6 separate regions of the Homo sapiens genome follow, and all the other regions are linked to region 2. The links come from fine-mapping of genetic effects on plasma protein levels. A gene starts in region 2. Each other region holds a variant in brackets. All regions are shown on one strand. Distances are between the middles of the regions.

Region 1 (4,088 bases), 43 kb before region 2:
TCACTATCTTTTGCCTCAAGTACCCCCACTGTCCCCCAACTCGCACCCCTACCAGTCCTGCAGGCCCCATTTTATATGCAGGAATACTGAAATCACTACCACGATGTGAAGCAAGAGTAGCTCTCTTTGCTCCTGACTTAGTCCTGAATTCAGCTGGAGAAGTCCTAACATTAGCAAACTCAACTAATTGTCCCTATCACTCCTGTTCTCCTTGGCGACCACGCCACCCCGGTGAGCCAGCAGCTTGGGATCCCAGGTTGGGCTCACCTGATAAGACCACTGCATCACCACCTTGGCCAGCCGGGTGGTCTCCTCTGAGCAATTACAGGGCTCTGGTGCAGGGCTGCAGGTTAAAACACACCAGGAATGAGAGAGGGGAGGCAGTGTGGGCAGGGAAGGGGATGCATCCAGCCCGCCTCTTATGGAAGAAGGGGCATAGGAGTTGCTTAAGGAGTAGGGATGAAGAAGCATAAGTCTTAGAGGACATAAATGTTGAGAAGAATAGAGGGTGGGTGGTCCCTTCTTGGGGGTTGGGTATGGGATGGAGGGAAGCTGTTCCTGGGGGGTGGGTATTGGATGGAGGGACGTTCTTCCTAGGGGGTCGATATGGGATGGAGGGAAGCTCTCCCTAGGGGGTGGGTATGGGTTAGGGGGTAGGTATGGGATGGAGGGAAGCTCTCCCTGGGGGGTAGGTATGGGATGGAGGGAAGCTCTCCCTGGGGGGTGGGTATGGGATGGAGGGAAGCTCTCCCTGGAGGGTGGCTATGGGATAGAGGGAAGCTTTTCCTGGGGGGTAGATATGGAATGGAGGAAAGCTCTTCCTAGGGGGTGACTATGGGATAGAGGGAAGCTCTTTCTCCCCCTTCATCTCTCAGTCCTCCTCCTCCCCGCTCACTGTTCTTCACACCAGACACCCACATCCCATTCCCCTTTCCCTCCCCTGTACCTTCTCTGTCTTGCATCCTCTTCAGAGCCCTCCTTCCCCAGCACCCCACTTCTCTCCTTTCCAGCACTCTCTTTTCTCCACCGCCCTTGCCCTGACTTTTTCCACATGAACTTCTTTTCTAGGTCCAGAGCCAGAATTCTTAGGATTTGGCTCCAAAAAGTTTAAAGTCTATGAACATTTTCAGAAATATATAGGAATCAAGTTCTGTGAAGTTAAACTACATTTAGGCTACGTTTTTCTATCCAATTTCCAGAAGTAACACTTCTTAGCTTATGGATGTTTTGCCAAGGCGAACTCTGAAATCACTCTGGCACTGAGGAGAGCCTCTGGCACAACATCAACCAGAATAAAAGAATAAAGTATTTTATTCTTTGACTCAGTCCCCAAAACAATGCTTGGCAGAGGGCCCACCCCACCCCGACTCTGCCACTCGCTCGGGTGTGAGCTCGCATGTGTTTCTCGGCCTCCTTTGGCCTCTGTTCTTTAGGGCTCCCTCATAGATTACGGCACATGAAGGGCCCCCACAGGCCGCACACGTGACAGCCGTGTCACAGATGCGTGTCTCATTCCACTTCCCCTTTTACCTGAGCCAAGTGCCGTGATACTGACGAGAGACCTCTGCAACCTCAGAGAGGTCCACCAGGTTTA[C/G]AAATGCTCTGGGGACCTAGGAGGACACACAGAGAGGGAGGTGAGTATTTGCCAAGTCGCCATGGCTGCCGGGCTTTCTGGAACTCCTGCTTGGGCCCCGTTGGGGTGTGGTTGAGTGTGATGGGCCTCCCCTTGGTTAACTGGGCCTGATCCTTTGGGAGATGTTTGGTCAGGGTCAGTCTGCGCTGCCAGCCCTGCATCTGTGCCATCCAGAAACAGGACTCTCTGTCCCTCACGGTGGGCGGGGCGCCTCCCACCAGTGTCCACAGGGGAGGGAGACCACTGGGGCTATGGGCCTGCAGCCTCCTCCAGCAGAAAGCTGCCCTCCAGGGGAGCAAAGCGGAAGGCAGGGCCACAGCAACCCCCAGCTGATTCTCAGACCCTGCAGCAGCATCACGGTCACTGAGCAGAAAGGTCTTGAAGGTCCTCAGGCCCCCTCCATCTTATCCTCGCCCCAGTCTCAGGTAGAGAGAGGCCTTAGGGAAGAGCAGGGCCACCGAGGACTCAAGGAAGAGCCGAGTTTCTCTCAGAAGTTTCCTTTGCAGGAGTGGAGTGTGCTCTCCTGGCCCATGTTCTCATTTGAAAGGATGAGAAGATGGGGTGCTCTAAAGTTTCCCCTTTCCCGAGGGTCCCAGTCTCCCTCACAGGGGTCCATTTCCCCACCCCGGTGGAGGCCACATGAGGGTAAATGGGCCCCACTGCCCTTGGGGAAGCCCTAGGCCCGTGGCCTCACCTCCTGCTGCAGGTAGTCCAGCACCCCCATCAGCTCATCCACGCCGCCCGCCGCAAGCCCATTCTGTGAGAGGAGAACCGTGCTAAGTGAGGGTGCCTGCAGGAGGACCACGAGGTGAGGCCACCCAGACTCACAACAGGCCCATCCCTGCCAGGCAAGACCACAGGCAAAGGCACCATCTAGACCTGGCATTCCACAAAGGAGGACAGAATTCCCAGAGCTTCCTAGTTTTGTCTTCATTTTGTTCTTCTATTTTCTCCCCAACCCATCATCCACCTGGGAAAAACCAAACTCCCCACAGGTGAAAAGTTCCATCAGGAAAGGGCAAACTCAAAGTCAGAGCAAGATCAGAAATACCTGGTGTGATTCTGAAGCTCACACTGAGGGACAGGAGACTTACTCCCAAAGACTTGAGGAATCGCTTTTTCCCAAAGAAAATCAGGTCCAACAGGGAAATACAATTAACCCTGTATTTAAGGCCCCAGATGGGCCTCGGAACCTTCATGTGATCCTATTTTATTAGCTTTTCTCTTGCTGTGTTTGCCCTAAGATAAGCATTCCTAGAGAAAGAGTATGAGTGGGTCCTGCCACCTGAGTATTTAAAGACATCTCCCACGCACCCAACACACACACCACTCCCCTTCCTGCAGGTCATGAAAATCAACAAATGAAGGACCTCAAAAACGGACCCTGCTTTACCTTTTTTTTTTTTTTTTTTTTTTTGAGATGGAGTCTCGCTCTTTTGCCCAGGTTGGAGTGCAGTGGTGTGATCTCGGCTCAGTGCAACCTCCACCTCCTGAGTAGCTGGGATTACAGGCGCCCGCCACCATGCCCAGCTAATTTTTGTATTTTTAGTAGAGACAGGGTTTCACCATGTTGGCCAGGCTGGTCTCAAACTCCTGACCTCAAATGATCCACCTACCTCGGCCTCCCAAAGTGCTGGATTACAGGCTGGGTGCAGTGGCTCATGCCTGCTTTACCTTTTCAATGTGAAAAATAATAAAAATTACAAGACAAACTTCTAAGTTTGTCCCCTAACAAACAGCAGACTGGCTGTCCCCTAAGGCAACTTGGCTCAGACAGGAAGACAAGGAAGGCCAAGGAGCTGTTCTGTTTCCCGGAGGGGACACAGGCAGTGACTCTGGAGACAGCTGTCAATCACCTGGGCTGGCACCACACAGGAGGAAATGCAGTGTCCCTGTTTCTCTGCCCCTTCACCGGCTGTCCCTGCTTTGGTGTGAGGCTGGCTTCTGGGAGGCCGGGTCAGCCAGGTCTGTTACCGTAAAGCCTTCTGTCTAGTTTTCTCCTAAGTGAGCTGCTCCCTGACCGTGACATCAAACATCACCCTCTCTTTCCTGAAGAGCCCAGGGGAACTCTGTCTAGAGGCATCCTCGCTGCCCATCTGAACCATACCCACCGTCCCTGGAGAGGCGGGGGACCCTGTGTGGCTCTCTCTAGAGTGTGAATCTTGCTGTAGAAACCCCTGGTCAAGGTGTTTACTTGCAGCTGCAGAGGGAATTGGGGCCCACCCAGTCATTCCAGGCACTGCATGGTTGTCGCTCGGGACACCAACTGTCCCCATTTCTCAGTAAAAGACATTATGCTCCTATAAGATGTCCCTCCTCTATAAGGTCATACATAATAAACTCCTAGAACCCAAAGTCAGGAAAAAGCTGATTTCTTCAAATGAACTTGTACATTTCCATGTGTATCGTTTGCCCCCTGGTTTGGAAGAATGTCTATTATCAAACACGTGCCTGA
Region 2 (4,088 bases):
CTGCACTCCAGCCTGGGTGACACAGCCAGACTCTGTCTCAAAAAAAAAAAAAATAGAGAATATACAAATGGACAACGGTGGGACCACATATGATAACAGAACTCTGAGCCACAGTCTGCAATCGGCCAGGCCAGAGAACCAAACTGCAGCCTCTGCAGCAATCAGCCCAGAATGGTCAGGTTTGGTTAATGACTGCCATCTTCTCTATTTTTTGCTCTGCTTCCAACTCAGGACCCCTCAGAGAAAGCCAGATACACTCCCAACTGGATAACTTCAGATGCCGTGCCTCTAGTCAGCTGGTCCCTGATACCAACAACCTCCAACCAGAGCAGATCTGAAGATTTCCCTTTTTTCCACTGTGAAACTTTCCCACTCCCCTGCCTGCCTTTGAATCTTGGCCAAACATAAGTGATGTCTCGCTACAGCGAGCTCTGAATAAGTAGCCTCTGTTTGTCCTCATTTGGGTAGTCTACATTTATTTACACAAAATTAAGAATTTTGCTCATCAAAAGTCCCCATAGGAGGACAAGCTTCAGAGTGGAACAAGATATTTGTCATATATGTAACCTCCAAAGAGCTAGTACACAGCATATATGGAGAACTCCTAAAAAATCAATAGGAAAAAGACTTCAACAGGCACTTCACAAAAGAGAAACTCAAACAATCTCTATGAAAACACTCCTTGGCCTCATCAGTAATCAAAGAAATACAATCATCCTGTGCAGAAGGCATAGCAAGCATCGTCATTCTCCCCCACGGCTCAGAGCGGTAACTGACTTGCCCCAGAGAAGCCTCAAGCATGGGCTCAGACCCTAGGCAGGCCCAGGACTCTGTCCCATGCCTCCTCCACTCTCTCTGGGGAGTCAAGGGCAAGTGCCTTCTCACTCCAGACCCCGTCCTCTCATCTGGAGAAGATGAAAGATCTTTAAGGCCCTTTTCAGTTTAAAAGATTCTGCCTTCCTAAGCAAAGGGAGAGCCAATGATGGGAAGAAGAGGGGCAGAGAGGGATTGTGGCAGAGGCACAATCTACCCACAGTCATTAATGTTGGGGGGAATGGAAAGCCCTGGCTGGTTGCCCACTCAGTTCAATGAAAGCTCAGCACTCTGTTTAGCAGCACTAAAGAATGTAGGCAATCTTTTAGAATTTATCATCTGGAAATCTGTCTTCCTTTGTCCTTCAAAAACAAAACAAAGCTCATAAATGGTAATAGTAATGATCAAAATGTGCATAGTAGTAGTATTTCCATTTTAAGGATGAAAAAAATCAAGGTCCAGGGAGGTGGAAGAACTTGCCCAAAGCCACAAAGCACAAACAAATAGAATCCAGGGGTTTTTTTTGTACCATGGTACTGCTACCGGACTGCACTTCTCTCCTGTCCCAAGATCTGCCTCGCTCCCGGCAGCCTTTGGGACATGTAACCCTGTGTAGGCAGCCTCTGCATCCCATTCCGCAGGAGGCAAACCAGACTTCTTATTCTTGAACTGTACGCTTTGTGCTTTATCTCTTCAAAAGCACACACTCCTCTCACACACCCATTGCCTAAGCAACATGGGACACCAGCGGGGCTAAACCACTGGTTGTCCTCTGAGCAAAAGGCACGCTTACCTTGCCCCAGAAGCAGCAGCAGCTCCAGGAGGAAAATGCCTGGCCGCAGCCCCATGCCAGAATGCTCCAGGTGACTCGGGCCTCTGGAAGAGCTGCTCCAGCAGATGGATGGGCTATCACACCTCCTCCTGCTTTTATGTTCCTCTGTGTTCTGATAGAGCACCTGTCATAAATTTTACTGTGTTCACCTTTGAAAGGGGGTAGTGGCGGGCTGTAAATGATAAATATTAACACTTAGGCGGAAGAGTTCTTAAGGCAGATGAGTCAATGATGGGTAGCATGTTCTAGTCATAGACACTGACAGACCAGGGCCGCATAGCTGCCTCCATACAGCCTTCCATGATGGTGGGTGCCCAGAAATTGCCGGTGTTCGGGTCTGCTGGGAAGAACGTGGGCCTGGGAATCCCAGGTGCTGGTCGGAATTCCAAATCAACCACAGCTGTGGGAACTTGGGTGTATCCCTTAACGTGGCCTCAGCTTTCTCAGTTGTAAGCCAGGAGATCAAAAGTACCTTGTAACAAATGTAAACCATAAACCTACCTCCAAATGTGAAACGTGTTCCCACCGTGTCTCAGAAGCTCTGCTAGGTTCCCTGGTTTGCATGACACAGAGAGGTTTGTTCTGTTCCCCCCATCTCCAAACCCATGGGTGGCCAGTTGTGTTGGGTGGATGTGCACACCATAGATTTGTTGTCTGCATGTTGAATTCAGAGATACAAGCCAGAGAGGGGGAACCAAGTTTGACAAAATCAGCCGTTTCCTTTGGGTAAACTAAGTCAGGAATGCAGGCTGGGTCTAAACTGGGCAGACAAAGCTGGCATTTAAAGCCTGAGTGACAAATACCCTTGAGAGTAGAATTTAAATTTTTTACACAAATATCAAGAAACAATTGCCTTGGTTGATAGGAACAAATATATTTAAATTATCCTTGCTTTCTGGCCATGCTTGTGGGTGTGAGGCTGGGATCCTGACTTCTGAGGTCTAGCTAAGACTCTAGGGCTGGTTCCCATGACCCAACCTCAGATTCTGATCTCCTGGCTGACCCACTTTTCTCATATTTAAAAATCACAGCCAGACACAGTGGCTCACACCTGTGATCCCAGCACTTTGGAAGGCTAAAGAAGGAGGATTATTTGAACCCAGGAGTTTGAAAACCAGCCTGGGCAACTCCATCTCTACAAAAAATAAAAATAAATTAGCCAGGCATGGTGGCATGCACCTGTAGTCCCAGGTACTTGGGAGGCTGAGGCAAGAGGATTGCTTGAGCCCAAGAGTTCAAGGTTGCAGTGAGCTATGATTGCACCACTGCACTCCAGCCTGGACAAGAGCAAGATTCCATCTCAATTAAAAAAAAATTGTTTTTAATTACTGTTATAACCTCTATTGTCTTGAGTAGAAAGTGAAGACGAAGTGAGTGGCCCTTTGTTCCTGAATCTCTGGTTTTAGGATGTTGTCTCCCTTTCTCAACTGCTCAGAAAATATGTGACTTGTGGGTCACCACTGATTTAGCCAATGCCAAAGGCTTAGCCTAAGCCTCAGGACTGTAGGGGGGTATTGGGACATGCCAGAGGTGTGTGGACACTGACACACTTAGTCCAGCTGGCCATCAGCTAGTTCCAGAGCCTAGAAGAGGGCAGCACACACAGACACACAGAAAAGGAAGAAGAAAATACACCCAAGGCCAAGGTCTGTGGGGGACAAGTGAGCACAGATGCCCCTGGATATGTAGACACTTGTCAACTTCACCAAACTGCCCCCAAGTTCAATGAGAAGCCAGAGCTGCTGTCCCACTAAGGATGTCAGGAGTTTACCCAGCTCCATGCCACCAGCAGCTTTGAGGAGCATCACTGAACTTGCCTGGGCTGAATAGGCCAAGGTCCCCACTCATGTGCAGGCCAGCTGGAGGTGGGGTGGAAAGGACATGGGGCATGCGCAGAAGTAAGTTGGTTCCACGCTCCAGGTACTCGCTCCATCTCTTAACTGCTTCTCTCCAGGACTACCACAGCCCAACTGGGTTACCATCCTTCCTCTAACTCCTTTCACATTTAGAAAAATTGAGAAATGCCTTAAAAACATTTGAATGTTGGGAAGGCATTTTGGTATGGGATAGACTGGATGTCCTTTTAGGTAGAATAAATCTCTGAGTTCCATCCATGCATCAAGGAATCCTCACCAACTGTGAGGCTGTAGGGGAAGCAACATTTCTTAGACACTCTTTTTAAAAATTTTTTTGAAAAACAGAGATGAGGTCTCACTATACTGCCCAGGCTGGTCTTGAACTCTTGGGCTCAATCAATCCTCCCACCTTGGCCTCCCAAAGTGCCGCGTTTACAGGCATGAGCCACGTCGCCCAGCCTCTTGGCACCCTTACAGCATCGCAGCTTAACTGGCACCTACTATTTATGTGGTCTAGTAGCAGCTATGAAAACAAGGGGAAAGTCGTCTGAAGTCAAAGGCTCCATCACTTGTCCATAAACTTTTGT
Region 3 (4,088 bases), 35 kb after region 2:
ACTAAGAATCTATATTAAAAAAAAAAAAAAATCAGCAGTTAGGGGAAATAACAGAATCCAGAGTCTCCACAACTTAACAATCATAATGTTCAGAATATCCAAATTATTTCATATATGAAGAACAGGGAAAATGTGATCCATTTTTAAGAGACAAGACAATCAACAGAGACTGACCCTGAGATGACCTAGATATTGGAATTAACAAAATCATAATTCTCAAGTAGCTATTATAACTATGCTTTGCAAGCTGAGGATGATACATGTACAACAAATAAAAAGATAGGAAACCTCAGCAGAGAAACTTGATTTAGAGGAAAACTAAATAGAAATTCTAGAACTGGAAAAGATAATGTTTGAAATAAAAGATTCACCAGTTTGGCTTAACAACAGTGTTCAGATAATAAAGGAGTCAACAACCTTGAAATCAGATCAGTACAAAAAGTATCCAATCACAACAAAGAGAACAAAGATTGAAAACAAACAACAACAACAAAAACACAGAGCCTCAAGAGCCTGTAAAAACAGTATCAAAATGTTTAACATGTGAAATGAAACCCCAGAAGGAAAAAAGAAAGACTACAGGATAAAAGAAGAGAAAATATTTGAAGAAACAATGGCTAAAATTTCCCCTTATTTGGTGAAAGACATGCATTTACAGACTCAAGAAACCCAGCATACCTCAAGTAGGATAAATACAAAGAAAATCTCCCTTAGGCACATCATAGTCCAACTGCTAAAAATCAAAGATAAAGAGGAAATCTTGACACAGCCCAAGAAAAAAGATATGTTACACATGGGGTGGAAAAAAAATCAAATCACTGGTGACTTCTCATCAGAAACCATGGAGGGCAGAAGCCAGTTTTTCAAACCCAGATTTATGAAATATCCTTCAAAAATGAAGGTAAAACAAAGAAATTTCCCCAAAAACAAGAAAACTAAAAGAATTCACCATTAGCATCTTCACTACAAGAAATGCTTAAGAAAGTTCTCAGGCTGAAAGGCAACAATACAGAAGACAAATGTGGATCATTAGAAACAAAGGAAGAGTGTGGGAAACAGTAAAAAGCTAGGTCAATACAAAAATCCTGATTCCCACTCTGACCCACCTAAACCTGCTTTTTCCCATAGACTTGCCTGTCTTGGTGATGGAAACACCGGCTTAATGGTTCCCAGGCAAAAACCATGGCATTCATTCTTTTTCTTACACCCCAACAAGGATTCTTGTTTCTACCTTCAAATTAAAATGTATTCAGAATCTGACCATTTTTTCTGCCTTTCTTTGTCTTCCTGGTCCAAGCCACTGTTTTGTTTTTTTTTTTCTTATTTCTAGAAGAGTTTTGAATACACCTGGATTGCTGCAATAGCCTACTCATTGATCTCCTATTTATTTTATTTTATTTTATTTTGTAGAGGTGGGGTCTCAGTATGTTGCCCAGGCTGGTCTCCTGACTCGCCCTCCCAAAGTGCTGGGATTACAGGTGTGAGCTGCCACACTCAGCCCTGATCTCCTATTTCTACTCCTGGTACTGTACTGGTGATTTTCCACATAGCAGCCAAGGAAACCTTTTAACACCTATGCCAGTTTTTCACTCTTTGCTCAACACTCTCCACTGGCCTTCTACCTTATCAAGGAAAAGAAACGAGTCCTTAGCACAGTCTACAAAGGCCCCGGGTGATGTGGACCCAGATACTTCTCTGATCTTCCCCTCTTTATACACTTCCTCCTTCTCTTGCTGTGATCTGGCCACCTTGGTTTCCTTGCTGTTCCTCAAAGACACCATGTACCTGCCTCAGGGACTTTACATTTGTCCTGGTATCTTCTCTGGTAACTACAGGACTCACTCCCTCAGTTCTCTGTTCAAATGATGCCTCATCAATGAAATGTTTCCTAGCTACTCAAAATAAAATAGCAATAGAGCACACATTTCCTATCTTGCTCTGTTTTTCTTCTTAACACTTACTGCCTTCATATTCAATTAAGCAATTGTTGAATGAACGAATGAATGGGTCTTTTTTTTTTTGAGACAGGGTCTCACTTTGTGACCCAGACTGGAGTACAGTGGCATGATCTTAGTTTACAAGGCGTAAGATATAGGCAGGTGGAGGTCCCTGCAGCCTTGACCTCCCAGGTTCAAGCAATCCTCATGCCTCAACCCCCAAGTAGCTGGGATCACAGGCATACTATTTTCGAGACAGAGTCTCACTCTTTCACCCAGGCTGGAGTGCAGTGGAGCAACCTCTGCTCACCGCAACCTCCG[C/T]CCCCCGGGTTCAACGATTCTCCTGCCTCAGCCTCCCAAGTAGCTGAAATTACAGGTATGCACCACCATGCCTAGCTAATTTTTGTATTTTTAGTAGAGATGGGGTTTCACCATGTTGGCCAGGCTGGTCTCGACTCCTGACCTCAGGTGATCCACCCACCTCAGCTTCCCAAAATGCTAGGATTACAGGCATGAGTCACACTGCCCTGGCCTAAAAATTTTTTTTTATTGTAGCAAAATATATGAGAAAGAAGAGAACCTTTTTATCTGCACGCTCTTTAGTTATCAGGCCCAGAGAGGCAATGAAAAGTAACAACATCACATTCCGTTTCAAGGCATCTGTGAGACTGCAGAACAGGTGGCAAAGCTCACCCTCACAAGCTGAAAAAAATTATGGACAAGAAGTTATCACTGAAATTAAACGGTGGCAGACATGTCCAAGGAATGCTGCGAGGATTTATCCCTTTATGAACCTTGTGATAGATGAATGTGTGGAGATGGCAACTAGCGAGCAACAGAACAATATTGCAATGCTGGTAAGATGAGGAAATAGTATCATCATGTCAGAAGCCTTGGAACAAGTGTAAATAGTGGCTGTTCAACGGAGACTTTCATGTCCCCTCTCCAAAGGGTCCATTTCACTATGATGTAAAAATTAGGTCATGAAAATTTTCATATTAGACTTTTTGTTAAATAAACTTTTGTAATAGTTAAAAAAATAAGAAAAGTGACAGCATGCCACATCTCATCCTCTCCACCATCTTGGGCTAAATAATTATGTCTTACAGCCCCTTGCTATGTGGGCTCTAAGACTAACTGACACCAAGTAGCTATAAAATGCCACACACTCTGGATGCCATAACTCTTACCCTATAGTTCAACAATGTATAGCCAATTACTAATCAATGTTATTTCCATTAACCAATGAGAATTCCTGACAAACAACTTTTTATCAGCCCACTCATTGTCTCCTTTTGCCTTTTTGACTAAAATGTTTAAGCAATTAAAAAAGTTTTTTAAGAGACAAGGTCTTGCTATGTCACCCAGGCTAGACTCAAACTCCTGGGCTCAAGCTGCCTCAGCCTCCTGAGCACCCGCCCCCTTTAACTTTTAAAACCCTGCTTGTGGCCAGGCGCAGTGGCTCATGCCTGTAATCCCAGCACTTTGGAAAGCCAAGGCGGGCGGATCACCTGAAGTCGGGAGTTCAAGACCAGCCTGGTCAACATAGTGAAACCCCATCTCTACTAAAGATACAAAAATTAGCCGGGCGTGGTGGTGCACACCTGTAGTCCCAGCTACTCGGGAGGCTGAGTCAGGAGAATCACTTGAACCCGGGAGGCAGAGGTTGCAGTGAACCGAAATCGTGCCACTGTACTCCAGCCTGGGCGACAGAGCGAGACTCCGTCTCAAAAAACAAAAAACAGAAAAAAACAAAATAACCTGCTTGTAGCAGAGGCCAAACAGAGCATTGCCAAGACAACTTGGAAGTGTGTCCTGAGCTATAGTCCTTAACCTTGGCCCAAATAAACTCTTTATATTAATTTTGCCTCCATTTCTTTCTTTAGATTGACATAGCCATAACATAAAATTTACCATTTTAACCATTTTTAAGTGTACAGTTCAGCGGTGTTAACTACACCCACAATGCTGGGCAACCAACACCATCATCCATTTCCAGAATTCTTTATTTTTTTTAACTTTTAATTACAGGTACATGTGCAGGTTTGTAACTTAGGTCAACATGTGTCATGGGGGTTTGTTGTACAGATTATGTTATCAACCAGGTATTAAGCCTAGTACCCATTCGTTATTTTTCCTGATCCTCTCCCT
Region 4 (4,088 bases), 84 kb before region 2:
TTTTTGAGATAGGATCTCACTCTGTCTCCCGGGCTGGAGTGCAGTGGTGTGATCATGGCTCACTGCAACCTTCACCTCCTGGGCTCAAGCAATCCTCCCACCTCAGCCTCCCAAGTAACTGGGACCATGGGTGCGTGCCACCACACCTGGCTAATTTTTGTATTTTTTGGTAGAGATGGGGTTTCCCCATGTTGCCCAGGCTGGTCCTGGGCTCAAGTGATCCATCCACCTCAGCCTCCCAAAGTGCTGGGATTACAGGTATGAGCCACCGCACCTGGCCAGAGTCCCCTTCTTTCTGTATTCAGTCACAGTGGGCAATATTGAAATAGTGTTTGTCTTTGGGGCCCCAGCCTGGACACCAGCCCCATGATCCTCAGGTTTGTCATGGCTGTGGCCCTCAGGGAAATGCCTATGCCTCTTTTTTTAATTTTATTTATTTATTTATTTATTTATTTATTTATTTATTTATTTATTTATTTTTTTGCGTGGAGCTCTGGATCTACTCCATATCCACTAACTGTAGAGCCAAAGCATCACATCTCCAGGCCCCTCTAACATGGGGATGTCCGAGCAGATGACTCTAAGATCTCCTGCAATCTGAGCAGCCTCTGTCCTATGGCCCGATCTCTTTTTCTTGGAGCCTCAGTGTCTGGGGCTACTGAGCACACCCTACATGTATGAAAGCACACCCTACATAAATCAAGGCAATAATGGGAGGGGAAGAGGGGAAGAGCGTCCTGTGAAACACCGGCCACACCAAGCCTAAACACATTTTAACTGTTTCTCCTGATCTCGATATTTGCGGTTTTAAAGCTTTCTCAGCAGTGGAACTCTTTCTCTGATTGAAATCTAACCAAAAGCCCTGCTGTATGGAACATATGAAAGCTGTGTCACTTAACATGAGCAGGGGAGGGGCCCAGGGTCCCACCTCCCCACGGGCTACCAGCAGCCCCAAGGCTCCCCTCTGGGCCCTTCAGATCACAGCTTGAAAACTCCTGACTCCTGGTGACTTTGATGCCAAGAAAGTGGGTTGTGAGGGGCCTGGGGGCTGGGGCATCCCTCCAGGTAGGTGCTCACAGGCCAGAGCAAGGCCACTACTTCCTAAACCTCACTCTGCTGGTCCCCTTTCTGTCTGACAAACCTCCTCATCTTCAAGCCTGAGCTGGAAAGTCTCCTGCTCTGTGTAAATCTCTCCAACAACCCCCTTTCCCACACACCAGGGTCCCACAGCAACTTTGCTTTTTTTTTTTTTGAGATGGAGTCTCGCTTTGTCACCCAGGCTGGAGTGCAGTGGCATGATCTCAGCTCACTGCAACCTCTGCCACCTGGGTTCAAGCGATTCTTCCGCCTCAGCCTCCCAAGTAGCTGGGACTACAAGCACTTGCCATCACAACCAGCTAATTTTTGTATTTTTGTAGAGACAGGGTTTCACCATGTTGGCCAGGCTGATCTTGAACTCCTGACCTCAGGTAATCTGCCTGCCTCGGCCTCCCGAAGTGCTGGGATTACAGGTGTGAGCCACCACACCCAGCCAACTTTGCTTTTAGACCTCTCTTCTGTGTGTATCCCTACAACAACATCCTGATGTCTGCTTTGTGCTGTGATGAACTGCCTGTCTCTCTCTCCGCTGGCAGTGCAAGTTCCTGAGGACAGGGCCTGTGTTTCCTTCACCACTGCCTTGCTCCTAGTACATTCCTGGCATAGGCGTGGGTGGGAGACTAGTGGGTATGCCCTGTCAGGCTTCTATCAGCTCAGAGACTGAGGTTCCAGGAGGACACGCAGCATCCATGGAGCAGCAGCCTTGATCTTGGGTTTCCCACCAGCCCAGAATGACTTGGCTCTGAAGCTTGCCCAAATGCCTGCAGGAAATCGACCTTCCCATACAAGTGACAGCACAAAGGTGGAAAGGGCAAGGCTGCTGGAGACTGGGGAAGGGAGCTAACCTGTGACTCTCTGTGAACATGGGAAAGATTTTTCTAGTCATTGGGTGTTATCTTGCTTTCTAGAATGATATGATCAAGCTCCCTTGATAGGAAACTTAATCAGGATCAATCTTATAACTAATCCTGCTTGCCCAGCTGAATGGTTCCCTGGAGGTGAATGCCTTCTCAGTCTCAGGGTTCATCCCAGGCTGGATCCAAGACAAACCATGAGCCTGAGTCCCAACTTAGCTGTACTCCTCCCGGGCAGAGCAAGTGACCGGGCTGTGAAAATCCTTCTCTGGGGGTGAGTCTTGAGTAAAGTGCCTGGAGACCTACCAGATCATTGCAGAAATCACAGAGGTCATT[G/A]CCGCCTATAAACAGGGTTATTATCTTCCAGTCTTCCTGAAAGTGTATCCTCTGAAATGAATAGAAACACAGAAGTAAGCACCTTGTCCCAGAGTCAAGTCAAGGAAAACACAAAATGCTTGCAAACTAGAAAAGATGGGTCCTCACACACCAGAGTGTCTCATGGACTTCTGAATTTTCTGTTCCTTGCTTTTAGGGTCCTGAGATCATAGGTGCTAAATGGTTCATTTATTTTAGGTGGAATCACTGAACTTGCATGTGGCTCTGTCCACACACAAAAGCACACACGTCAGTTTCCACGTGTCCTGGTGGGAGTGGATACAGATGCCCTCTGAGCTCTGTTCCTCCATCTCCAGCATAGCAAGGAAGTGGGGAAGGGATAAGGAAGCTGGTTTTGGCCATGGGAAAGGAATGTTTGTTCCAGAATCTTCTAGAAATCCTGAATTCTAATTGTGCCTTAAGGGAGAAAGACCATCTTTCATTAAGAGGGAGCTCTCCAAATTTGGAATACTCACACTGGTGACTAGTTCTGCCCATGAACTAGTCAAGCCAGAGAGGCTGAGTAGGGTAAGGTGGCAGCTCTAAGCACAAGCTCTGAAAAGATTTTGCCACCTCTGGGATCTGTCTCCTCCAAAGAGGACCTGGAAAAGCATATGAAGTCACAGGGCTGTGTGGAGAGGGTGCAGCCATACACATTCCATAAACTATGGCCCCAGGGCAGCCACGGCCCTGCAAGCCTCTTATATTGCCCCAGGCCTACATAGCTTTGCTTCCCTGATCTACACTTCCAAAAGAGCGTGGAAGGAGGAAGGTGAGAACAAGATCCAGGAAAGTTTGACATTAAGGGTAGAAATACCCTGAGAACCTCCCAATAATAGACTTTGATGTACATTAAATTATATATAACATAACTCATCCTAATCTTCCTTTTTATTTTACCCACCTAGAAACCCCTGCAAAAAGCCTCTGAATTGAGACCGTGCTTTCATTTGAGGGAGAGCTGCATATTCATCTTTCAGAACCCGGCTCAAACATCTCCTCTACTTTTATTTTTTGGTACTGCTCCTTGCAGACCAGGGCTCTCCCGTAGGCCATGTGCCCAGAATAACAGCCAAAATCTCCTTTTCAAGCCTTCCCTGACTGTCCTAAGCAGAGGCGCCGGTCCCTTCTGCACCCCACCGTGTCTTATACAGAGCCCTTTCGGTGGAGCACGTGGCAACTGTTTTATAATTTGATTCTTCACATTGGTCTCCGCTTCCAAGCTCCTTGAGGACAGGACTGTGTTGTATTCTTTTGTGCATCTGCAGCCCCAGCCTGATGCCTGACTCACAGTAGATGTTTAATTTCAACAGCCAACTGACTGAACAAATAGGAATCCCCTTTCCAGAGAAGCAGTGTTTTAGGCTTCAGATGTGTCTGCTAGAAACCCAAGCCGGGCTCCCAACCATCCCTCAATCCACAGCTGATCTTCTCTGTGTCCAGGGATTTTTCCTGCCTACTTCCCATCCCAGGGACCCACCGTGTCATTCTTCATCAGGTCCACCAGCCTCCTGGCCTGGACAGGTAGATCCCTGTGGAAACATACCAGAGGAAGTGCTGTGAGGAGTGGGGACTGGCAGGGGCCCTTAGCAGAGAGAACAGCAATCAAATGTATGGTGGAGGAAGGCCCAGGGTGGGCCTCCTGCAGGAAAATGGACTGAAGGCCGTGTCGCAGAGCTTCTTCCCCATTCAGGCTCCACTGCGGGGGTGTGGGGTGGTGACTGTGCTTGGGAAGGCCAGAGCACTGCACGTAGGAGGGGG
Region 5 (4,088 bases), 100 kb before region 2:
CAAAATCTGATATTCATATATATGGTATTTACTGTTCTTTTTCTTCTGTGTCTCTTTTTCGAATCCCAGCATGTTATATTCCAGGTCAATGGATTTTTTTTTTTTTTTTTTTCGAGACGGAGTCTTGCTCTGTCGCCCAGGCTGGAGTGCAGTGGTGTGATCTCCACTCAATGCAAGCTCCGCCTCCCGGGTTCATGCCATTCTCCTGCCTCAGCCTCCCGAGTAGCTGGGACTACAGGTACCCGCCACCATGCCCAGCTAATTTTTTCTGTTTTTTAGTAGAGATGGGGTTCCACCGTGTTAGCCAGGATGGTCTCGATCTCCTGACCTCATGATTCGCCCGCCTCAGCCTCCCAAAGTGCTGGGATTACAGGCGTGAGCCACCGCGCCTGGCCCAGGCCAATGGATTTTAAGAACGTGGCCTTAGCTTCCAGCCCACCAGCAAAGACTTCTAAGGGACAGGCCATGAGTCATAGTTGTTCTTCATTCAAGGAATGCTTGGAATGAAGTGGACTATTGCATGCCAGAGTGGTCAAGGACTTAAGTCAGAGGCTCTGCAAGCAATTCAGGTGGTAGAGAGAAGGCAGATGCCGTAAATCTTACCCTTCTCCTTCACTCAGTTCTCGCTCCCCACCCTTCCGTTAGATGTCTGAGCCTAACTTGCTCGTGGATGGGCGTTTGTTTAAGCGTCTGATTCTTTTCCAGCTCTGCATGAAGCTGTTGCTTTCTAATCCTTCTTTTTCTGGACTAAAGGCACCCAATCAGAATATTTTACATTTGAAAAGAAGTATAAATTTATATACCTCTGCCAATCACTTGTGTTCTAATTCTGCCTCCTTTTCTCCTTCAATAAAGATATAAACATAGACACACAAACACAAACGCATCAAGTACTTCCTACTGTAATTTCTTGTTTAAAGGTATCTTCATTTTAAAACAAGTATGGTGGCTAATCAAGACCAACAGGCTATGAAAATCTCTCCCTGACTTCCATTTTAAAGTGAAAACTTCCAGAAGAAAAGGATTATGACAAATAAACACAAAAGCGCAAAAATATTCAAACTCTCATTTTGATCAGAACCATGAAACGTGAAAGGAAGTAGACCCATATCAAACAGCTAGTCCACCTTAGACCCTTCAGATGGATATCATTTATGTTACACTCAATTTATGTTACAGAGCTCAATGGCTGGGCTCTGGTCATCTGTTGTCACCTAAAGTGTACAGAAAAATAGAGTAGATGCTCAGTAACATTTGTTGAAGGAGTTTCAGTCATATGAGATTGACCCCCTAGTTAATAAAACAAAGGCAACTTTTTTGGTAAGTAAATTTTATTTTGATCCTTTGAATGGTCCCAAACAAGCGAACTTATTTCAATGGAAGAAAAGGCAATGCTCTCAAGACCTTGGGGCCCAGCACATTGTTAAGCTGGCCAAAGCTGGAACCGTTCACTACAGAATCTCACAGGTCAAGGGGCCTTGGAAATATTCACAGCCGAGCCTCTTCTGCAGGTCCTGTTCACAGCCACCCACCCCCCATGAATTCTGGGTCTACTTCTCCCCTAATTCCATGAGATCCACTCTTTTCACTTTGTTTCCCAGGGGGAAGAGGCTCAAATTGCATTCTGAATTGATCTAGTATCATTAATTGCCTAGTTTGTCCAATCTAGAAGCTTTAACGGCTCAAAAATTGCTTTTCTCAGATAAGTCTACTACGTGAACACTTTCAGGAGGTGTTAACAGGTGTTATGAACAAAGAAAATGTTCTGGAATTAAGGGAAACATTGGGTTAAACAGATAAAACTTAAATAGATTTCTGCATTGCAGGCCTTATGAGAGCCTTTAATATGCTAATACACACATGAATTCCCCAAAGGAAGGTTATGGTAATGTTTCCCCCTCAGATACAAAGGATTTTCTCTTCTCCAGGAACAGGTCTGGAGTTAATGTTCCATGGAACACACTTTGAGACACAGTAGTCTATGTATTCTACCAAGTGTCAAGCTGTCTCTCAGACCCCGACCTAGAGCTTCCATCTTTAACACACGTGCATTTGGGGGCAGCTATTTGAAACATTTAGGACAAATGAAGGGTTTAAAGGGACAGCAGCCATTGAACCTGAGGCCTTAGAGCTAGAACTAAAAGATTGAGACATTAGGCTGTAATGGACTTCACTTGTTGGAAGAAACAGAGCAATGGCTGAATTTTCCCATCGCTGCAGAAAGAAACTTTTAGTAGAGGACTGCTGGTTCATATCTGAATCCCAGGAGCCCAGCTGGTCGATCTGTTTTAAAGTAGGGCACATCACCTCACTTCCCCAGGCTGCCCCACCAGGTGCACGTCGCGTATCTATCACCTGCAATGTGGTTCGTCT[G/A]CTTGATTTTTGTTTCCCATGCTATCGTATGAGGTCATTGCCTTCTTTAGCTGAGACCAAGTGCAGCTGCCAGAACCTCATGCTCTTTCCTGATTGTAATAAGCTCTGCTTTCTCTCCTCTGGTTTTTTTTCTTGTAGCCTCATTAGGAGCAGAATGGTGAGTCAGTGAGGCTCTGATTTGTTCCATGGCAGCCTGTTAGGACCAGGTACCTGACCAAGGACTTGTGGAAACGCAGGGACCTTGGCGCAGGAAGGCACTGACCTCTGTTCTTGAGAGGTTGATGTCCTCATGCTAAGGACAACCTAGGTCCTCGTTGTGGGTGGTACAGGCCGAGTGATGGCGCCTCCCTCTCGCCCTGGAAACCCATCCTCTCTGGGACTCTGCTCAGGTCTGGCCAGAGAACCTTCACAGTCTTGATCACCCCCTCCCTGCTCCCTGTCACTTCCCCAGGAAGCAAACTGACTCAGAAGAAAAGGGAGGCGGCAGCAAAGGTGCTGTCCTGGCTCCGCCACTCATTAGCACGCTGCCCCCTTGTGGCCAGCTTCGTTCTAGTTGTTTTCCCAGGTAAATTCTGAGCTACTCGCCACTTACTTTGAAGCCTACAGGAATGAGAACTTTATTAGGAGAGAAAGAAACTTGAGAATATCTACACGCAACCGCTCGCCTGACACACCCTGAGCTTCTCCACTTCCGTGTTCGGGATGCCCTTTCTCACCCTTTCCTCTTGTCGAATTGCTAATCTTTCAAGACATGGCTGATTGTGATTGTGTCTTGGTTATGGCCTCTCGAAGTGTGCGATGGGTTTCAGAGGTTTTCTGTGCAGATGTGTACATATATGTAAAGGCAGCTGTGTGACTACAAGACAACATGAATAAACACATAAAGACAGTAAACAGAGACGTAGGAACACCACGTGTACACGTATACATGCAAGCGGGGAGGTGAAGATTCAGGGATTTGGTGCTTTTCTGGTGCATTTCCTGTTGGATTTGCTGACCCAGGAGTCTGATAAGAACCCTGGTTTACTTTCTCTGCACAATCAAAAAAAAAAAAAAGATTATCAACAGTAAAATATCCTCTCCACTCACCAAATGTTCACATTTTGCAGAAATATATAGCTTTTTCTTTCTGAAAGCCCCTTCCAGACCAAGTCTTCGACCTCTGGGATTTACATATTTACAGGAGACAAAGCCACACCTAATCTCTGTTGTGGGGGGAACGCTGGGAGAGGTCAAAGGTTAACATTACCTGTATGACAGTCCCCGATACTGTGTGGTGACATCGGGGAGGTCGTCTGGTTTGGAGCCAATTCCATTGCCAGCCTTTGAAAATATACCAGAGTCCATAGGAAAATTAGCAAGTCAGAGAACAGGGAGGCTGTGAATGCACAGGGCTTCCAAAGAGGGGGTTCCCAATGCACTCGTGGTGGCAGGAGCAGACATGGAACCAGGAGCCCCTGGCTCTAAGTCTGCCATCCTCCTCTCCAGCTGTGTGCCTTCCCCAACTCTTAGCTGCCTCCTCGCTGAGCTGAGGACACGCCCTGCTCATCTCACAGGGAGTGTTTTGGGGATCAAATTGGATTACAGTTGTAAAAACCACTTTGAAAACTCTCAAGTGTTTTACAAACGTGAGAGAGTGTTAATAATGTCGTTCCCAGCGTTATGCCCCTACGTTCTTTATGAGCATGAAGAGAGAGCTCATTGGCTTAAGCGAC
Region 6 (4,088 bases), 120 kb before region 2:
AGGCAGGTAGATCCCAATCCCTGACTCTACCTGCCTCACTGGGCAGGGAGGCCTAAGGGACTGCCACTGGGACTATAAGGAGACAAGAAGTAGCATCCAATGGAGAGCTCTGTGCACCTCCACATGGAAGCCCAGCTGTGGCGGCAGGCCGCAGGATCTAGGTCTGCACTGCAGGGGAATTAGCAAGTCCTGCTTAAAGCTCCAGGGTATGTTTGCAGGGTCTCCCCACAACCTGATATTCGGCAAGGCCCTTAATTGAAGGAGATGATGATGTTTTCACTCACCAGAGGTTGGAACACTATTGGAAGCCTTCCACTCTGTACACAGGAAGTCACTGCCCCAGTTCTAAATCAACAGGAGAAAAGATTCAGTGCCCAACACTCATTGTGCAGGGAGATAAGCTTCAGCCCAAGAAGAACCAGCTAAGGGATTTTTGATGGAGGCTAGAAATGAGTCACCATACAGGATCATGTGAGGGAAAGAACTGTGAGTTATAGGTGGGCTAGGAGGGAAATTAAAGGGGGAGAAATGGGTGTGTCTAGCTACCCCTATGCACAACCCATAGTGCATGTCTCCACATGTGCACCCACACACCACCTTTCTTATCCCCATATATCTATGCTTTGAATGGAGCCAGTGGCTGCCCCAAAGCAGGGAAGAAAACCATGAAGTCCTACACAGGTGGGTCTCCCAAAGGAACACAGCATTTGGATGCCTAACATGAGATTACAGGTATGTGTGTTTTATAAAATTAAGCTAACTGACACTAATTATAATGGTAGAACCTAGACAATAATTAAAATATTTTTAGAATAATAACACAAAATATTTTAAAATTGTAAAGCTCCTGGTTTCTGCCTGTCTTTTCTGGATACCTGTATGTCTTTTTGCATATTTAACTTAACAGCCTTATTCCTTATATGTTTTTAAATTGATGTAAGCAACCCTGGATGCTTTTAGTCAATTTTCTTTGTCTCTAATACAGAACATATTTTCCAGGTGCTGGGGAAAGGAGTGGGATGGGAAGCAGAGGGCATAGAAATGATTAGTACCAGAAATCTGGGGGAAAATTGAGTATCTTCCCAAAGTCTCAAATATATGCATACTGAGTATGGAGTAGGGCTTGACCAGCAGATTGACTGTCCAGGAGTCTGACTGCCAGATGCTATGAAAACTCATCTCATCTGTTCAGTCAGATGATGAAGATAAGACTTGTTGAAATATTCCTATCATGAGAGAGCAAAAATGGAACTTCTTTTAAATATTATTTGCTTAATCCTATGGAATTTGGTTTTTTCCCAAGGGATTGCTCAATTCATCATTCTGATGGATTTCTTCTGTTTAAAGGTTTAATGAACTCAAGAGCATGCTTGTGTGCAGATGACAAATACTCACAGAAAATGCAACGTAAAAAGTTATTCAGCCATCAGCACATGAGATATATCTCAGATAGTTGGTGAACCAGAGATAAGCATATTCCATGTAGATTAACAGATCCTGGTTGGAATTGAAACGTGCTCATCCGTCACAAGGGAAGAACCATGCACCACACCCAAAATCAGTGCATCCAAATCCCCTGAAGATCTTAAGCTGCAGATTCTGATTCAGCAGGTTTGGGGTGGTGCCCAGGACTCTGCATTTCTAAAAAGCTCCCAGGTAAAGCCTCTTTGTGGCCACTTTATTAGTTTTGCTTTTATTATTTTTAATTGACATATTAAGTGTACATACTTATGAGGCATAGTGTGATATTTTGATACATCTCTACAATGTGCAGTGATCAAATCAGGGTAATTAGCCTATCCCTCACTTCAAATATTTACCATTTCTTTGTGTTGGGAACATTCAAAATCTGCTGTTCTAGCTATTTGAAAATATATGGTAAACTGTTAACTATAGTCACCCTACTGTGCTATAAAACACTAGAAATTCTCCTTCCTATATAGCTGTAATTTTCTGTTAATCAATTTCTGCTATCTCTACTCCCCAACCACCATCCACCCTTCCCAGCCTCTAATAACCACTATTTATACTCTACTTCTGTGAAGTCAACTTCTTAAGCTTCCGCATATGGTGAGAACATGTAGTATTTGTCTTTCTGTGCCTGACTTATTTCACTTAACGTAATGTC[C/T]TCTAGGCTCATTCACGTTACCTCAGATGACAGAATTTTGTTTCTGTGGTTACTTTGAGTAGAAAGCTGTTAAAACAAACACACGCCCTTCTAGCTCTGGGATTTTTAGCTCTTCCAGCAGCAAAAGCAAAGATGCATGAGACTGAAGAACCAAGAGGGCAGATCCAGACCCATTCGGCTCACCACTGTCTACCGAGCACTTAGTGCAGTGCCCACTCTACATAGGCATCCAATAGGTAAATGAATAAATGAAGAAATGCCTGATTCACAAGATGCAGCTGACATTTCAATTCTCAGGGAATTTGGTCACTGGTTCAATGAGGACAAGCCTCCACTGGGCTAACGTGAGCCTGAGAAAATTCAGAGAGGCTGGACACAGCATAACCCGCAGCCAGCAATCTGGTATTGCTTGCACCCCAGAGCTTAGCATCCAATAGTTCTTAATGATTTCATATGGGTTAGTTTCTTCAGCTGGCTTATAAAATGTCTTTCCCCAATCACTCCTGCTGATGGCCAACCCATTCTACACATAGCAGTCAGGGAGATCTTTGAAAGACGTGAACCAGATCATGTCACTCTCTCCTGAGACCGCCAATGCCTTCCCATCTTTCTCCACTTGAAATCCAGTGGTTTTACTCAGTAATTCAGGCTTTGTGTGATCTGGCTCCTTGGCACTCCTGATCTCATTTCCCCCACTCTCCACCTCATTCTCATGCCCCCAGCCACTCTGACCTTCTTTCTCTTCCCCAAATACACCCAACACAGTCCCACTTCTGAGCCTGTGTGGTCCATGGTCCTTCTGCCTGGGACTGTGTTCCTGGCTCCCTGTATAGCAAGTGTCTCCTCATTATGCATGTCTCAGTTTAAATCTCACCTCAGGAAGGCCTGGCCTGCATGGTGCACCTGAATTTGCCTCCCTTGCCCCAGCCCCATCACGCTCCTCAGAGCTGTCATCACTATCTGAAATGACCATGCCTAGCCATGTATATAAGACACCTTTCTCAGTAGATTGTAAGCTACGTGAGGGCCGGGATCCATCTGTCTGGTTAACATTTCTGTCTTCCTGGAATAGTGTCTGGCACATAGTATGTGCTCAATAATTGTGAAATTCTACTGGGCTCTCACTTCCCTTGGTCCGGACCATGTTCGATACTTCTCTGCATGCCTTCTAGCCCCTAACATGAGACTGGATATAATATAGGTGTGAAACTGAAACTGCGGGTCAAACCCCATCCTGGTGACCAACAGACCTGATCCGGACCAGGCCTGACTGCCAGTCATGGTATAGTCCGGGGTCCTCCAGGCCGTCTTTGCAGTGGCCGTCCTAGGCTCACAGACATGGTTAATCCAATGGAATTAACCATGGGCTCTGAATCCTCAGCACTAGAATGATTGACTTGAACCAAACAAGGCCTAGGGGCCCACAGGAACATGAACGTGCCTCCACTTCCTTTTGGGTCCCATCCCCAGAATTGTAGTTCCCTCCCACTCAGCCTCCACCTTCCAAGAAGTCAACGCCACATCACACCAGCTGCCTCTCCCTCTTGAGAGGCTGAGCTGCCTAAGCAGTAACCACGTCTGTGAGCCCAGGATTGCCAAGGTCAAAGAAAATCGATCCATAGACACTTCCTCTGCTTGGGGGCTGACGTCAGGTAAGCAACTTGAGAACATGTTAGGACAATCCTGGGGCTTCGTGGTCCGGGAGCCTTTTCTGTACATTCCAATCCCCAGTATGTAAGAAGTACATTTCTGCTTCAGTGAATACTCTGAAACCTGTACCACACCCGAGCCCCTGGCAGGTGGAAATGGTTTGTGTCTGAGAGAGGCAGATGTGAGTCAGGGGTTACCTCAATGGCTGGCTTGATGGGGTACGTGTAGTTACTATTCCGAGGGGTTCTCAGGAAGGGCTCATTCTAAGAGAAAAAAAAACACATGGAGAAGTTATCTGACAGCACTGAAG

Which allele goes with the higher level. Alleles are on the strand shown, and positions count from the first base shown. The strength of an association depends on the size of the effect and on how common the allele is.
In carriers of allele G in region 1, the plasma level of the protein whose gene starts at base 1,716 in region 2 tends to be lower than with C alone (strong association).
For the plasma level of the protein whose gene starts at base 1,716 in region 2, C is the low allele of the variant in region 3 and T is the other (weak association).
For the plasma level of the protein whose gene starts at base 1,716 in region 2, G is the high allele of the variant in region 4 and A is the other (weak association).
For the plasma level of the protein whose gene starts at base 1,716 in region 2, G is the high allele of the variant in region 5 and A is the other (strong association).
As copies of C replace T in region 6, the plasma level of the protein whose gene starts at base 1,716 in region 2 goes up (weak association).

Evidence for each region. PIP is the chance, under the fine-mapping model, that this variant and not a neighbour inherited with it causes the effect. Protein levels are from antibody-based Olink assays in UK Biobank. Linkage for the fine-mapping came from a reference panel and not from the study's own genotypes, which makes the PIPs less certain.
Region 1: its variant is fine-mapped to the plasma level of the PLB1 protein (UK Biobank, PIP above 0.99). The variant lies in the coding sequence of PLB1. If it changes the protein, the assay may bind it differently, which can mimic a change of level.
Region 3: its variant is fine-mapped to the plasma level of the PLB1 protein (UK Biobank, PIP above 0.99).
Region 4: its variant is fine-mapped to the plasma level of the PLB1 protein (UK Biobank, PIP 0.99). The variant lies in the coding sequence of PLB1. If it changes the protein, the assay may bind it differently, which can mimic a change of level.
Region 5: its variant is fine-mapped to the plasma level of the PLB1 protein (UK Biobank, PIP above 0.99).
Region 6: its variant is fine-mapped to the plasma level of the PLB1 protein (UK Biobank, PIP above 0.99).

Annotation. Positions count from the first base shown.
Region 1 is chr2:28,536,621-28,540,708 of GRCh38, reverse strand. PLB1 (phospholipase B1) reads right to left here. Exons shown (of 58, transcript NM_153021.5): 10 at 2,328-2,390; 11 at 1,531-1,610; 12 at 268-343. Among named protein-coding and RNA genes, the nearest start is that of PLB1, 43 kb to the right of the region's middle. RefSeq lists a silencer at 1,193-1,487. The variant C/G (reference allele first, on the strand shown) is at 1,595.
Region 2 is chr2:28,493,688-28,497,775 of GRCh38, reverse strand. It overlaps PLB1 (phospholipase B1), which reads right to left and starts at 1,716. Exons shown (of 58, transcript NM_153021.5): 1 at 1,607-1,716. The coding sequence starts at 1,661.
Region 3 is chr2:28,458,891-28,462,978 of GRCh38, reverse strand. It overlaps the pseudogene SNRPGP7. Among named protein-coding and RNA genes, the nearest start is that of PLB1, 35 kb to the left of the region's middle. The variant C/T (reference allele first, on the strand shown) is at 2,259.
Region 4 is chr2:28,577,878-28,581,965 of GRCh38, reverse strand. PLB1 (phospholipase B1) reads right to left here. Exons shown (of 58, transcript NM_153021.5): 22 at 3,808-3,859; 23 at 2,259-2,339. Among named protein-coding and RNA genes, the nearest start is that of PLB1, 84 kb to the right of the region's middle. The variant G/A (reference allele first, on the strand shown) is at 2,289.
Region 5 is chr2:28,593,289-28,597,376 of GRCh38, reverse strand. PLB1 (phospholipase B1) reads right to left here. Exons shown (of 58, transcript NM_153021.5): 33 at 3,623-3,696. Among named protein-coding and RNA genes, the nearest start is that of PLB1, 99 kb to the right of the region's middle. RefSeq lists an enhancer at 321-615. The variant G/A (reference allele first, on the strand shown) is at 2,374.
Region 6 is chr2:28,613,984-28,618,071 of GRCh38, reverse strand. PLB1 (phospholipase B1) reads right to left here. Exons shown (of 58, transcript NM_153021.5): 44 at 3,976-4,041; 45 at 285-345. Among named protein-coding and RNA genes, the nearest start is that of PLB1, 120 kb to the right of the region's middle. The variant C/T (reference allele first, on the strand shown) is at 2,129.